Linked DNA regions of Homo sapiens. The protein of the gene in region 4 interacts with the protein of the main gene of each other region in a pairwise test. Each region holds a gene or a part of one and is shown on either strand. Other genes may lie near its edges.

Evidence for each region. The genes of interacting proteins can lie anywhere in the genome.
Region 1: the proteins of PINK1 (region 4) and APPL2 interact in a two-hybrid assay, tested with the Homo sapiens proteins (one large-scale study listed by BioGRID and IntAct).
Region 2: the proteins of PINK1 (region 4) and HSH2D interact in a two-hybrid assay, tested with the Homo sapiens proteins (one large-scale study listed by BioGRID and IntAct).
Region 3: the proteins of PINK1 (region 4) and SNCAIP interact in a two-hybrid assay, tested with the Homo sapiens proteins (one study listed by BioGRID).

What each region holds. Positions count from the first base shown.
Region 1 is NC_000012.12:105,191,175-105,194,674, reverse strand, and holds part of APPL2 (DCC-interacting protein 13-beta), read left to right. Parts: intron 1-3,500. UniProt on the Homo sapiens protein: Multifunctional adapter protein that binds to various membrane receptors, nuclear factors and signaling proteins to regulate many processes, such as cell proliferation, immune response, endosomal trafficking and cell metabolism.
Region 2 is NC_000019.10:16,150,185-16,153,684, forward strand, and holds part of HSH2D (hematopoietic SH2 domain-containing protein), read left to right. Parts: intron 1-1,262; exon of another isoform or gene 1,263-1,394; intron 1,395-2,367; coding exon 2,368-2,457; exon of another isoform or gene 2,458-2,858; coding exon 2,859-3,024; intron 3,025-3,500. UniProt on the Homo sapiens protein: May be a modulator of the apoptotic response through its ability to affect mitochondrial stability. Adapter protein involved in tyrosine kinase and CD28 signaling. Seems to affect CD28-mediated activation of the RE/AP element of the interleukin-2 promoter.
Region 3 is NC_000005.10:122,458,737-122,462,236, forward strand, and holds part of SNCAIP (synphilin-1), read left to right. Parts: exon of another isoform or gene 1-598; intron 599-3,500. UniProt on the Homo sapiens protein: Isoform 2 inhibits the ubiquitin ligase activity of SIAH1 and inhibits proteasomal degradation of target proteins. Isoform 2 inhibits autoubiquitination and proteasomal degradation of SIAH1, and thereby increases cellular levels of SIAH.
Region 4 is NC_000001.11:20,639,958-20,643,457, reverse strand, and holds part of PINK1 (serine/threonine-protein kinase PINK1, mitochondrial precursor), read right to left. Parts: coding exon 3,466-3,500; intron 802-3,465; exon of another isoform or gene 340-801; intron 1-339. UniProt on the Homo sapiens protein: Serine/threonine-protein kinase which acts as a sensor of mitochondrial damage and protects against mitochondrial dysfunction during cellular stress.

The sequences.
Region 1 (3,500 bases), on a different chromosome or scaffold from region 4:
CTGTCACCTGGGCTGGAGTGCAGTGGAGTAATCCCGGCTCACTGCAACCGCCACTTCCCAGATTCAAGTGATTCTCCTGCCTCAGCCTCCCGAGTAGCTGGGATTACAGGCGCCCACCACCACACCTGGCTAATTTTTGTATTTTTAATAGAGATGGGGTTTCACTATGTTAGCCAGGCTGGTCTTGAACTCCTGACCTCAAGTGATCCACCCGCCTCAGCTTCCCAAAGTGCTGGGATTACAGGCATGAGCCACTGCGCCTGGCCCATTCTACCATTTATTAACCATTGAATATTTAGGTTATCTCCCTGGCGTTTACTGTTATCATTTAGAGCAAACATTTTCATGCATACAGCTTTCCTCATTTTGAATAGTGCTTTAGGATTTATTCCAGGAATCCTACCTTTTGTCTTAATGGGAGTTTCCATCTGGTTAAATAGTAGAGGATTGTATTTTCATACTAATGAAAGCCTGGCATTAAAGGGTAAATTAAAATTACGACTATATTTGGTGTTCATCTTTTAGTGGCATGGTAGAAAGAACCCCATTACATTTTTTACAAATATCTAATGACCCCAGAAGGAAGTCATTAGAAAACTCAGTGGTTAAGTAACTTCCCAGAATCTGTGCAGTGTGGAGCCAGCGTTCACATGCCGGGCACGGGGTATCTGAGAAGGAATGGGAGAAGGTAAGGCCAGAAAATAGGTTTGAGTCTAACTGGAAAGACCTGGGTGCCCTGCTTAGGAGTTACAGGCAATGGAGCAAAATGGAAGGTTTTGAGAAAATGGGCGATGGTCAGAACCAGGGTTAGGGAAGACTATTCTGTACCTGAGTAGGATAAATTTTAGGATACAGGTTGTGGGAAGAAGGGGAGAGTGCAAGACCCAGTAGGATGTTGATGTAGTAGTAGCTGTGAAGCAGAACATGAGAACGTAAACAAATGTTTTTAAAAAAGAGGAGAAAGAGGCAACAAGTCCGAGAAACATTTCAGCACCGTAACTTAAGGATTTAACAGTTGATACAAGTAGCATGCTTTATGAAATGGAACTCTAAGGAAGACACTATATGAAAGGAAGTGGAACTAAAGATCCAGTCAGCGAGGGTTAATCCCGTAGCCTTCTCCTGGGTAAATGTATGTCTTCTCTTTGTAAAGTTACAAAAATGTTTGATGTGCACAATGGAGGGAATACCAGACCTGCAGTTGAGAGACATGGGTTCTAACGATATCTCTGCCTTGTGTTATACACAGCTAGATGTCCCTGAGTAAGTCAGTAAATGCTCTGGGCCTTTGTCTTCTCAGCCTTGTGACATACAGGGAACTAGCTAACCTCCTAGGACCCTTCTAGCTCTGATATGCCATCTCTCAAGGGTGTTGATGGATAGTTTAGGGGGGTTTGGAATTAGAAGGTGTGATACGTTTCCTAAAAAGACAATTTGCAGCCTATATTTAATTATTCAGTAACTGACTTTTCCCCCTATTCTAGAATAAGCAAGTCACATTCTTAGACCAAAAGGACCCCACAGAAGGGACACAGAAGACTCCCTGGGGGGAAAAAAAATGACTCTAGCCAGCCAGCTGAATTAGCCCAGTGATTGGATGGGTGACAGATGTGGCTGCCAGATGGCCCCAGAGCTGTGGGGAGAGGGATACTATCTCTTTTAGGGTCAGCCCACTGAGAATAAAGCAATGTTTTGATGACAGTGGGGGGGGAAAGAATCAGAGAAATTGTGTTCTTGGGAACAAACTGCTATTTACTTCTAAGCAAGTACCATGTGTGGACTTCCCTCATTCTGCAGTTACTATATATCTGCTGTTCATTCATTTATCTAGCTACTCAACAAATATTTGAGTATCTACTATTTGCCCAGGCCTGGCCTAGGTAAGAAAACGCAGGGATTACTGGGGAGAACAGGCAAAAGGTAAGCACAGGCTGAGTTAAAATGAGGGAAGCACCCCAATGTTAAGGAGATGAGGTGCTGTCATGGAGGGTGAAGAGGAGACCTGTGCAGGGCCTGGCTGTGAAGATAATATTCAAGCTGCAAAGTGAAAGACAAGACGCAGCCACTCTTGCAAAGAGCCAGAAGTAGTGTATTCTTGGTAGCAGTTGTGGAGGTAACAGGACAGAGAAGATCTTAGTATATCTGAGGAACTGAAAAAAGGCAGTGTAACGGGACAGTGGAGATCATGGGACAGGATGAGGGCGGGTGGGGAGGGAGGCAGGGGTCGATCAAGAAGGAAGCATGTGGGGAGCTGTGGAAGGGCTCTGAGAGGTGCGTGTTTGTGATGGAGACAGAGATACCCACTCTCCATTTTCCAAAGTTAGTTAGCTCTGGCTGCTCTGGAGAGCACAGAACAGAGCAAGTCTGTAGCCAGTGAGGAGGCGTCCCAACAGCCCAAGAGAAGATGATGGTGGTTTAGACCAGGATCACGGCAGAGATGAAAAGTAGATGGATGTGGACTTATTCTGGAGGTAAAACCTGTGGGACTTTTGATGGATAAGCGTAGACGGAAAAGGACAGATCAAAGGATGACTTCAGTTGGAGCTGAACACCTGGGCAGATGGTGTTTTTTAAAAAAAAGAAGAGTTCATGTTTTGGACATGTTAAGCATGAGAGGCCTGTGAAACATCCCAAATGAGTTGTCAAGCAGTCAACGGATGATACAGGTCTGGAGTGCAAAGAAAACGTCTGGTCTGGGTGTATGAATCGGGGACTCATAGCACTGAACAGCAGTGGATGAGGTCCTCTATGGGAGAAAGGAGAGGGAGGGGAAAGCAGAGCCTGCAACAGAATCCTAAAGAACTCCAGCATTTAGGGTAGAAAAGGAGCCTGCCAAAGACATTGAGAAGGAACATCAAGAAAGGTAGAAGGAAACTCTGTAAAATGTGGCACCAGCCGAAACCGAGAGGAGAGTTCAAGGAGAGATCAGCTGTGTTAGATGCTTTAAGTCAATTATGATGACTGCGAAGTGTCCATTAGAGCTGATGACATGGAGATCCTGTACAGGTGAAACTTAACATCATGTCACTCCTATGTTCAGAGTCTTTGGTGGCTCCCTATACTGTTGTGTCAAGTTCAGACCCCACCTGACGGTATAAGGGCCCTCTACAACCTGGCCTCACCCTATCTTGATTGTTATCTATCTCCCCCCTTTGACTCTCTGGGGAGCCAAAATCTTAGACTCACTTTCTCCCCTTGAAGCTTCTACTCATAGCTTTCTTCAGTGCTTACCACTTATTATATCACAGCCCTCTCTTAAAGACAGGATCAAACAGATGTGACTGTCCCATTTAGGGTTATTGAAGCAGTATGACATCCTGGAGATGCACTCTCCTGGCAGTGAGGAGACCCCTGTTTATAATCTGGCTCGCCCACCAGGTAACTGAGTGCCTTCAAAACTGCTCAATTTCTCCAGAGGCCTCAGTTTCCTTTTCTGTTAACAATGGAGGTCAGACCAAGTGGTCTCCAAGGGCTTGCCTTGCAGTGACCATCTACAAGCC
Region 2 (3,500 bases), on a different chromosome or scaffold from region 4:
GGATCGCTTGAGCCCAGGAGTTCAAGGCTGGCCTGGACAACATAGTGAGACTCCATCTCTAAAAGGAATTTTAGGCTGGGTGCAGTGGCTCATGCTTGTAATCCCAGCACTTTGGGAGGCCGAGGCTGGCAGACCACCTGAGGTCAGGAGTTTGAGACCAGCCTGGACAACATGGTGAAACCTTGTGTCTACTGAAAATACAAAATTAGCCAGGCGTGGTGGCGCATGCCTGTAATCCCAGCTACTCGAGAGGCTGAGGCAGCAGAATCACTTGAACCCAGGAGGCGGAGATTGCAGTGAGCTGAGGTCGTGCCACTGCACTCCAGGCTGAGCAACAAGAGTAAAACTCCGTCTCAAAAAAAAAAAAATTAACTGGGCACGGTGGCACGTGCCTGTAATCCCAGCTACTCGGGTGGCTGAGGCAGGAGACTTGCTGGAACCCTGCAGGCAGAGATCATGCCACTGCACTCCAGCCTGGGTGACAGAGCAAGATTCCAGCTCAAAAAAAAAAAAAAATTAAAAAAATTAGCCAGGCGTGTGGAACATGCCTGTGGTTCTGGCTACTCAGGAGGCTGAGGTGGGAGGATCTCTTGAGCCCAGGAATTCAAGGTTTCAGTGAGTTATGATTGCATCTCTGCACTCCAGCCTGAGTGATAGAGTAAGACCCTGTCTCAAAAACAAAAAACAATTCATGAAACAGCATATGTTCCTTTTTTGTGTTGTTTTGGAAATCAGTACAAAAGGCCAGTGGCCTCTGTATTGAACAGTGCAGGACCAAAGTCTCCCCAGCTTGTCCCACAGAAGGCGGCCTTCCTCTCTGTGAACTCCAGATAATAATGGTAATAATATAGAAAATAGACTGATTTCGGTGGCTCACGCCTGTAATCCCAGCACTTTGGGAGGCCGAGGCGGGCGGATCACCAGAGGTCAGGAGCTCGAGACCAGCCTGGCAAACATGGTGAAACCCCGTCTCTACTAAAAATACAAAAAATTAGCTGGGCGTGGTTGCGGGTACCTGTAATCCCAGTTACTTGGGAGGCTGAGGCAGGAGAATAGCTTGAACCTGGGAGGCAGAGGTTGCAGTGAGCCAAGATTGCATCATTGCACTCCAGCCTGGGCAACAAAAGCAAAACTCCAACTCAAAAAAAAAAAAAAAAAGAGAGAGAGAGAGAATAATAGTAATAATAACAGCAAACATTTTGGGAGCACTTACCAGGTAGCAGCTGTCATGCTTATGTTGCAAGTTCTTTCTGTTCTCACAGCAGCCTTGGAAGTGGAGTTTACTCTCCCCTTGAGGAAGCTGAAGGTCAGAAAGGGAGAGACGATTGCCTGAGGTCACACAGCTGATGGACAGTAGAGCTGGGTTATGAACTCGAATGCATCTGAGCATACAGGTCCTTCTTTGTTACTTGTGACACCTTGATCCACCCAAAGGTGCCTTAATCGGGGGATTCCAGGCATTGGGAAGGGGCTGTGGGAGATGGGAGGAGGTCTGGCCTGAGATCAAGGTCATCAGACGCCTCCTAGCTCCTCGGGGGGAACATCCCTAATCCCTGAATAGCCCAAGGTCTGCCACAGCTGAAAAAAAAAAAAAAAAAAAAAAAAGATGGGTTTGGGGTGTTTGTTCATTTAGAAAACAGGCCGGGCACAGTGGCTCACACCTGTAATCCCAGCACTTTGGGAGGCTGAGGCAGGCGGATCACTTGAGGACAGGGGTTTGAGACCAGCCTGGCCAACATGGTGAAACCCTGTCTCTACTAAAAAAAAAAAAAAAAAGTTGGGCATGGTGGCGGGCGCCTGTAATCCCCGCTACTCAGGAGGCTGAGGCAAGAGAATCACCTGAACCCAGGAGGTTGAGGCTGCAGTAAGCCAAGGTCACGCCATTGCACTCAGCCTGGGAGACAGAGCGAGACTCTGTCTCAACAAAAAAAAAAAAAAAAAGGAAAAAAGAGGCCGGGCACGGTGGCTCACACCTATAATCCCAGCACTTTGGGAGGCCGAGGTGGGCGGATCACGAGGTCAGGAGATCGAGACCATCCTGGCTAACACAGTGAAACCCCATCTCTACTAAAATATACAAAAAATTAGCCGGGCGTGGTGGCTGGCGCCTGTGGTCCCAGCTACTTGGGAGGCTGAGGCAGGAGAATGGCGTGAATCCGGGAGGCGGAGCTTGCAGTAAGTTGAGATCGCGCCACTGCACTCCAGCCGGGGGGACAGAGCGAGACTCTGTCTCAAAAAAAAAAAAAAGGAAAAAAGAAAAATGAAAACTACCAGCCTTCTCCATGAATGATCCCATGGCCCCAGGAGTCTAACTGGTACGTGGGGCGGCTGGACTGTTTCATTTCCTTTCTGTGTGTGCCCTTCCAGGGATGCTGAGAACTTGCTGGAGTCACAGCCACTGGGATCCTTTCTCATCAGGGTCAGTCACAGCCATGTGGGCTACACACTCTCCTACAAGTAAGGCCTGGGCCGGGATCCAGGGCAGGGGCAGGTGGGCTCTTGGGTTTCCTTGGAGGGGGCAAGGGGTGCTTCATGTCATAGCTTCTCAGAAAGCAGCAGTAACTGAGGCTGTGGATCTGAGAACGGGAGCTGCTAGCCAAGCAATGAGTGAAGCTTTTGTCCGTAGTGGCATGTTTTATCTGAGGCCAGCCTTTGTACTCCTGTGTTATAAATGGGGGAAACTGAGGCACAGCGAGGTTAGTAACCTGCTGGGTGTTGCATGGCCAGTGAGTGAAGAAGCCTGCATGGGAACCTGGGGTAGTCTGGCTGTAGCAGTGACGCTGCCGGCCCAAGGGCTGGGGACTTGGGGCAGGGATGAGGGGGAGTAGGATGTCCCAGCCCCCGCAGTGTCTCCGCAGAGCCCAAAGCAGCTGCTGCCATTTCATGGTGAAGCTCTTGGATGATGGGACTTTCATGATCCCCGGGGAGAAGGTGGCCCACACCTCGCTGGACGCCCTGGTCACCTTCCACCAGCAGAAGCCAATTGAGCCGCGCAGGGAGCTGCTGACACAGCCCTGCAGGCAGGTGAGGGCGGGGACCCACAAGGTTCACAGCCATTTCCTTGGGGCCAAGCCCCCCAGACCCCTTTGTTTCCCACGCCCCCATCAGCTCCTCTTGATTCTGTCACTCTCATGGTCCTTGGCCCCTCCGGCCCCACCCCAGTAGTCCCTCTGCCCCCCACAGCGGTCTCCGTTGTGGTTCCTGCTTCCCCATGGCTCCGCCCTCCAGGCCCATGTCAACAGGCTGATTTTTTATAAGGGTTCATGTGCCAGGTATAATCTTGGCTCATCTGAAGGAATGACATCTTTCCTTAGAAGGCTCGGTGGGCGTGGCCTGGCTCCCAATACGCTTTCCTTAGAAGGCTCAGTGGGTGTGGCCTGGCTCCCAATAAACTGCTGTGGGTGGAGCATCTTTCCTTAGAAGGCTCAGTGGGTGTGGCCTGGCTCCCAATAAACTGCTGTGGGTGGAGCATCTTTCCTTAGAAGCTCGGTGGGCGTGGC
Region 3 (3,500 bases), on a different chromosome or scaffold from region 4:
TCTGCCAGGATAAGGCCTGATTCCTTCACTCAGGGAGATCATAATCAAGAGAGAATGAAAATAGGATTCAAGTAAAACATGGCAAGCTCTGTGAAAAAGGCCTAAGAGCTTCATGAAAATAGTAATCCCCAATAGCACCTTTGTACTCCACGTGTACTCCCAGTGTCTTGCTTGGTGCCTGGTGCATGATAGAGACTTCATAGATATTTGGAGAGAGGTGAAGCTAGAGAGAGGAAAAGTGGAAGAAGAGAGAAAAATATGAATAAAAAAAGGACTGAGCCTGTCTTCCCACAGCGGGGAAAAATGGTGTGTTCTTTATCAATATTGGCCTTCTGGTCACAAGTCCACCTACCCACAGTGAGTTTCCATTTGGGCACTTCAAATACAAGTTTTCATGCCTTGAACCAAAATCCATTTCTTAGTAGATGAGACTTATAGATGTGCTCTCAGTCAAAACTCTGAGGGAGATCACAGAAAATAGCAAGGTTTCCCTGTTTTGGTTATCAGCGGAAATGTCGTGCGTGCCGTGGACCATTCTACATGGATGCTGTAAGTTGCAGTCTGGTCACCATGGACTGTGGAAATCTGCAATCCATGCCTAGAAGAGTCAGCAAGTTAGAACACTTGAAAAACTGTTATTTAAATTTAAGCTTTTTTTCTTTCCAATTTTGGTCACTCAGAATGTGATTTCATATCCAAAAATGAAATAGAGGAGTAGCAAATTATCTGAATAATTCATGCCAGAATTACCCAAACACTTTCGTTCTTTGAATACTGTTAATTTGGGACTAGGTAATTGAAGGGTTCAGGGAGGATTGAATTATCCTGATATTTTTCAGATAAATGCCTCAAGTTAATATTTTACTTGGTACAGACTTAGCTCTAATCATAAGGGGTTTTGTCCTGCAGAAAGAGTGCTCATTTTAGTGTTTTTGACCACAGCACCTCTTATATTAAAGCAGAAATGCCCATCAAAGTCTAAACTTTATTATCTTTAGACTATGACCAAAACCTTCTTTTAAGTGTTCTATTTTAATTTATTGTTAAAGTGATATAGATACTTATAAGAGTAATACTAGCATTATAATAAAGACTGGATGTGCCCTGTGCCAAACCCACCCCCTTCCCTAGCCTCACTCTTTTGAATCGACCATTCACTTTTCCTTCAGGTGTTTTCTCTAGTATTCTCTATTTCTAAGTAACATGCTCATACAGATTTTCAGTTTCAAATAGTATCCCTGTTATCTACTGGCATTCTACTATAGAAAATCAAAATGATAGCACTTATAAACACTTATAAAGCACGTACAGTATCCCAGAGAATATTTCAGGTGCTTTACACATATGTACTATTTTAATCTTCTCAATGACACTATGTGGCAGATACTTTTTTTTTTTTTTAAGAAACAGGGTCTTGCTCAGTCACCTAGGCTGCAGTGCAGTCGTGTGATCTTGGCTCACAGCATCCTCTAACTTCTGGGCTCAAGAGATCCTCCCACTTCAGCCTCCTGAGCAGCTAGAACTACCAGCATGTGCCACCCCACCCAGCCAAGCAGATACTATTATTATCCTAATTTTGCGTATTGGAAACTGAGACATAGAATGATTACATATCTTGCCCAAGATTACATAGTAATGATGGCAATAAATTGTGGAGCCAGGATTTGAACTCAGTCTGGCTCCTAAATCCGTATTTTTAACAATGATCCAAATGTGTCTAGCTCCATTTTAGCATCCAACAATCCAACACTGCACCTGTTCTCTCTTGTTCTGTCTCTCTCTTTCCCTCTCTTTCCTATCTCTCACACACGCACCTACACACATGCACACATTCCTGCTTCCTCTTCCTCCCACCCCCATGAATATAGTTGTATCACTCTCAAGAGCTAAATCAGTATTCAGTGTTAATTATCATTATGGTTATTTAAATATTAATCACAAGGACTCATTATGTTGTCCTATGTTATATTTTCTTTCTCATACAATTTTATGTTTGCCATGGAAATAATTTTGGTTTCTTAATTTACAATGCGTTTCTAAACACTCTGCTGAAGACCAAACCATCTTTTAGCACCCTCAGACAGCTCAGGTGTTTGTCAGTTACTCTCTGTTCATGGAGACCCCTCCTCCTGCCCCCATCTTCACTGCTGCCTCCTGGCACTGCCACACAGCTATCATCCTGGAGTCTCTCATGCACATCATCCTGGGAATTCCTTGTGCTTCTCTCCTGTTTAGACTCTGTTTCCTGAACCTGTCTTTTCCTTTCTATTTTGTTTATTCTCATGCTTCAGTCATATATCTTCCCACCCAAGGAAGGTAAACAGTTGCTAATTTTTTTGAGACCCTGACAGTCTGAAAATATCTTCAATTTACCAGATTGAGTGTTTGACTCAGTATAGGATTCTAGGTGGGAAATTATTCTCTTTCAGAATCTTGAACACATCATTTCATTTTCTTTTGCTTCTAATGTGTCTGTTGAGAAGCCCTATTCTTCTCTGCCAATGGCTTGGAAGATTTTATGATTTCTTCTTTATCTCCAATATTTTGATTTTTTGATGCTTTGCCATGATGTGGGTCTGTTTTCATTCCTGGGCTGTGGGCACTCAGCAAGCTTTTTCAATCTGGAACCCTCAGTACTTCAGTTCTGGGAAATGTTTTGTACAATTTCTTTGAAAATTTTCTCTTCTCCAATTTCTCTGTTCCCTCTTTTGAAAATCCTCTTATTCTAATGTTAGACACACTGGACTGATCCTCAGATTTTCTAATGATTCTTCTCTATTTTTCCATACTTTGACTTTTTCTAGTTTGAATCTCTAATATATCTACTGAAACTTGCCTTTCAATCTTGCTATTGAATTTTTTATTTCTGTTATAATAATATTAATTTCCAACATCACTTTACTGGTCTTCTCTTTGTTCCTTTTTTATAGCTGTTTTTTTTTTTTTTTCTTTTTCTTTTTGAGACAGAGTCTTGCTCTGTCACCCAGGCTGGAATGCAATGGTGTGATCTTGGCTCACTGCAACCTCTGCCTCCTGGGTTCAAGTGATTCTTATGCCTCAGCCTCCATAACTGGGACTACAGCCACCACACCTGGCTAATTTTTGTATTTTTGGTAGAGACAGGGTTTCGCCATGTTGGCCAAGCTGGTCTCGAACTCCTGACCTCAACTGATCTACCTGCCTCAGCCTCCCAAAATGTTGGGATTACAGGCATGAGCCACCATGCCCGGCTTTTATAGAGTTTTATGTGCAAATCTTATTTAAATTTTTGCAGTCAAATACAAATGCGTATCTTTATCTTCCTTTTTACAATAAAGGTGTCGCACTGTACACACAGTTTTGTTTCTTGCTTTTTTTTATCTGACACGTTGGAGGACTTTATGTGTTAGTATATAGAGAGCTTCTTCATTCTTTAACATAGTTGCTATCATCTTCAGAAGTACACGGTGCTTCTAATTCCTGCATCTGGTAGTGCAAATCAGTTAGTTGGATTCCCTGAC
Region 4 (3,500 bases):
ATATGGGTGTAATAAACCTTTGTTGAATAAGTGAATAGATCCAGATGCAGCTAGTAGTGGTAGTGTCATCTGCCTGCCCTGGCTGCTCCTTATCCTGTGGGGAGCGCCCCCCGACCCCCAAACCACAGCCCTGCTGAGGCACAGTGGCTGGATTTTGGATGGGGTGGCTCTGCCAGCTGTGTGCCAGCCCTGCCCTTCAGCCAAAGCTGACTGGCCCAAGGAGTCACCTGCCCCAACGGCAGTGAACCTACAGTGACACTCGAGACCCAGATGGTTGGACGAAGGGAAGGGAGGGAAGTAGATTCTCTTTTTGGGAGTGTGAGTGAAGAAATCTGCCAGTCTGCAGTGGAGAGGAAGCCACGATACTTCACTGGGGCCATGAGGAGCCAGAGGTGAGCAGGCCAAAGGGAAGCAGGAACAGGAGATGCGAGGAAAGAACAGCATGTGGACAGTGGAACCACGTTCCTACAAGTTCAAGAATCAGTAACTGATGGAAATTCCCGTGGCTCACTCCTGTAATCCCAGCAATTTGGGAGGCTGAGGCAGGCAATTGCTTGAGCCCAGGAGTTCGAGGCCAGCCCGGGCAACATGGAGAAACTCTGTCTCTACAAAAACTACAAAAATTAGCTGGGCATGGTGGCATGTGCCTGCAGACCCAGCTACTTGGGAGGCTGAGGTGGGAGGATCACTTGAGCCCAGGGAGGTTGAGGCTGCAGTGAGCCAAGATCACGCCACTGCTCTCCAGCCTGGGCAACAGAGTAAGACCCTGTCTCAGAAAAATAAAAGAAAATTTGAGTTTGCAGAAACCACTTTCTGAAAGGCTGAAACTCCCTCTGCTTATGAGATAAAAGAACTGGCTGAAATTGGTTGGAACCAATAAGGCCAATTGCAGCTTGCACAGAACAAGTTTGCTGATGTCAAAGCCTGAATTGCCACTGCACGTTTCATACTCACTCCTCCCAAATCTGCACAGGGGACCCATGAGTTGGCATGAACAGATAACTGTGCATGTCCAAGGACTGTCCAGACTTCTCCTTTCCTTCCATCAATCACCTGCTAATCTTAGAATCCACCCCTTAAACCTCCTCTAATAAAATTACCGCCTTAAAGCTAGCACAGGGAGACAGGGTTGAATTCAACTCCTGTCTCCATATGAGTCGACTCACAATAGAAAGCTTGGCTTTTCTCAAAAATCCAGTGTGACTGCTTCTAGCACATCAGGCTAGAGCCCCCTTTGCTGCATAACAATGGTGGAGGGAAGCGAATGGGGCAGAGCCTAGACGGTGCTGGGGAGAGAGCAGGGCACCGGCCTCTCCCAGCACTGCATGGTCCCCAGGCTGTGTGGCTGCAGTCCACGTGTGCCCACGCGCTGCTCCTGCTCTTGAGTCAACCTGAGTGGCCCCTGTTCTATGCAATCAAAGGAGCCAGAGCATCGTTTCCACCCTCGGGCCCCTGGGCAAGTCATGATCACAGCCCCAGGCTGTCAGGGCCCCAGCAGGTGTCATGGGAGCTCAGGGGCAGAGGAGTATGGCTGTACTGGGGAGATACATGGTGGGGTTGCGGGTGTCTGAACTGAGACCTGAAATGTGGGAGGAGGGCAGCCCAGGTATAGCCAGCTGTACGCTCAAGAGATGGTCACAGAGAAGCCTGGCACATTCGGGGAAGGAGCTATGAAGCCAGCGTGGTGGAGTGTAGGGTGCTGATGAGAAGGGTGAGAGATAAGGCGGGAGACGTGGTGAGATGAGCAGGTTAAGCGCCTTCAATCTCTGGGCCCCAGGAGAGCAGAGGCTAGGAGGAAATGAACCCAGGGTGTTCTTGGGAAAGCTTCTCCCAAGGTGTACCAGAAGTTGAGGTAATGTACCTGCTGCCACATCTATCCGGTCATTCAACAGGTATTTACTGAGGGTATGCAGTAAACAAAGAGTGTTTACAGTACAGCTGGAGCAAAAAGGAACCAACAGAAAAAGACGTGTTATTTGAGGCCAGACAGTGAGAACTGCTAAAGGAACAAAGTCCCTGAAGAGGGACAGGGACTATGTCAGATGGGAGGTCTCAGCAGCAGACATCATGGTGCTCCGGCAGCAGGACAGCACCACGTCGGCCGGCTGCCACTCATGCCACAAAAGGAGGCATCAAGGATCATGTTAGCCCCAAAGCAGCTGACATTCAGGTGTCCACTTTCTCCAAAAAGGCCTCAGGAGAAGCAGCAGCCACTTGAGCAGCTACCTCCACCGGCCTGCAGGGACTCCCAGTCACATTGGAAACCTCCAAACCATGGAAGGGGTTTTCCACAACCACTCCCTTAATTTCATACTTTTGCCTCCCTGCTTCTGACAGAATGAAGATCTATAAACCAGCCCTCCAGTAAATCACCAAAAATGCAGCAGACCCACCTCTTCTTGGTGGGTCTACAAATGAGAGACAGGGTCTCACTCCAGGGTCGCCCAGGCTGGAGTGCAGTGGCATGATCTTGGCTCACTGCAGCCTCAACCTCCCTGGACTCAAATGATCCTCCCGCCTCAGCCTCCTGAGTAGCTGGGATCACAGGCATTTGCCCCCATGCCCGGCTAAAATTTATTTTTTGTAAAGGCGGGGTTTCACCATGTTGCCCAGGCTGCTCTTGAACTCCTGGGCTCAAGTGATCTGCCTACCTCAGCCTCCCAAAGTGCTGGGATTACAGGCATGAGCCAGGCTGTAAATATTGAGGTGGGCACAAGTATCTCCTCTGTCATAGCCTGCGCGTCAGTCCTCACCACCTGTGGTGAGGCTGGTGGTGGACATGGGCTTTTCTGAGCTGAAAGCGTAGCTGCTGTTCACTTGCTCTTCCCTCTGCTGGGAATGCCACTTCCCTACTCCTCTGCCCAAGTAATGCCAATTCATCCTTCACAAGGTGGCACAAACTGTCCCTTTGAGAAGGCTTTCTGAGCAGCCCCTCCTCTGCAGCACACGCCTCCCCTGGGCTCCCTCAGCCCAAGCATACTCGATTCTAGCACTTACACCCTGGGCTCTCTGCTGCCACACTGAGACCTCTGGGCCAACAGACCACTTTTTGTTTTTTTTAAAATCTCTTGGCACCATCAGTGCACATAACTATTAGTGAAATGAGTGTTCCCTCTGGTGGGGACAGAGTTCAGTTTATTCCGATAGGTGGCGCTCTACCCGTGCATTTCTTAGGAGGAATCTGAGAACCCCAGTCAATCATGCAACACTGTGAACTGGGCATTTTTGGGGGGCCTCCTCTCCCCTGCTCCAATGTGAATTACGCAAGTGCATCATCATTTGGGGTCAGATTACCTGCAATCTTTCCCAAGTGAAATTATCCACTAACTGAAAATCCATCACCAACATTAAGCCTTTATTATCTACTGTCATATCAGACACTGTACCAGGTGCTGAGGACATAAGTGATGGATGAAGTTGCTCTCAAAGAAGTCCCAGTCAGTCTGGCAGGCAGAGGGCACTTACCTGTAAGTGACTGCTCCATACTCCCCAGCCAAGGC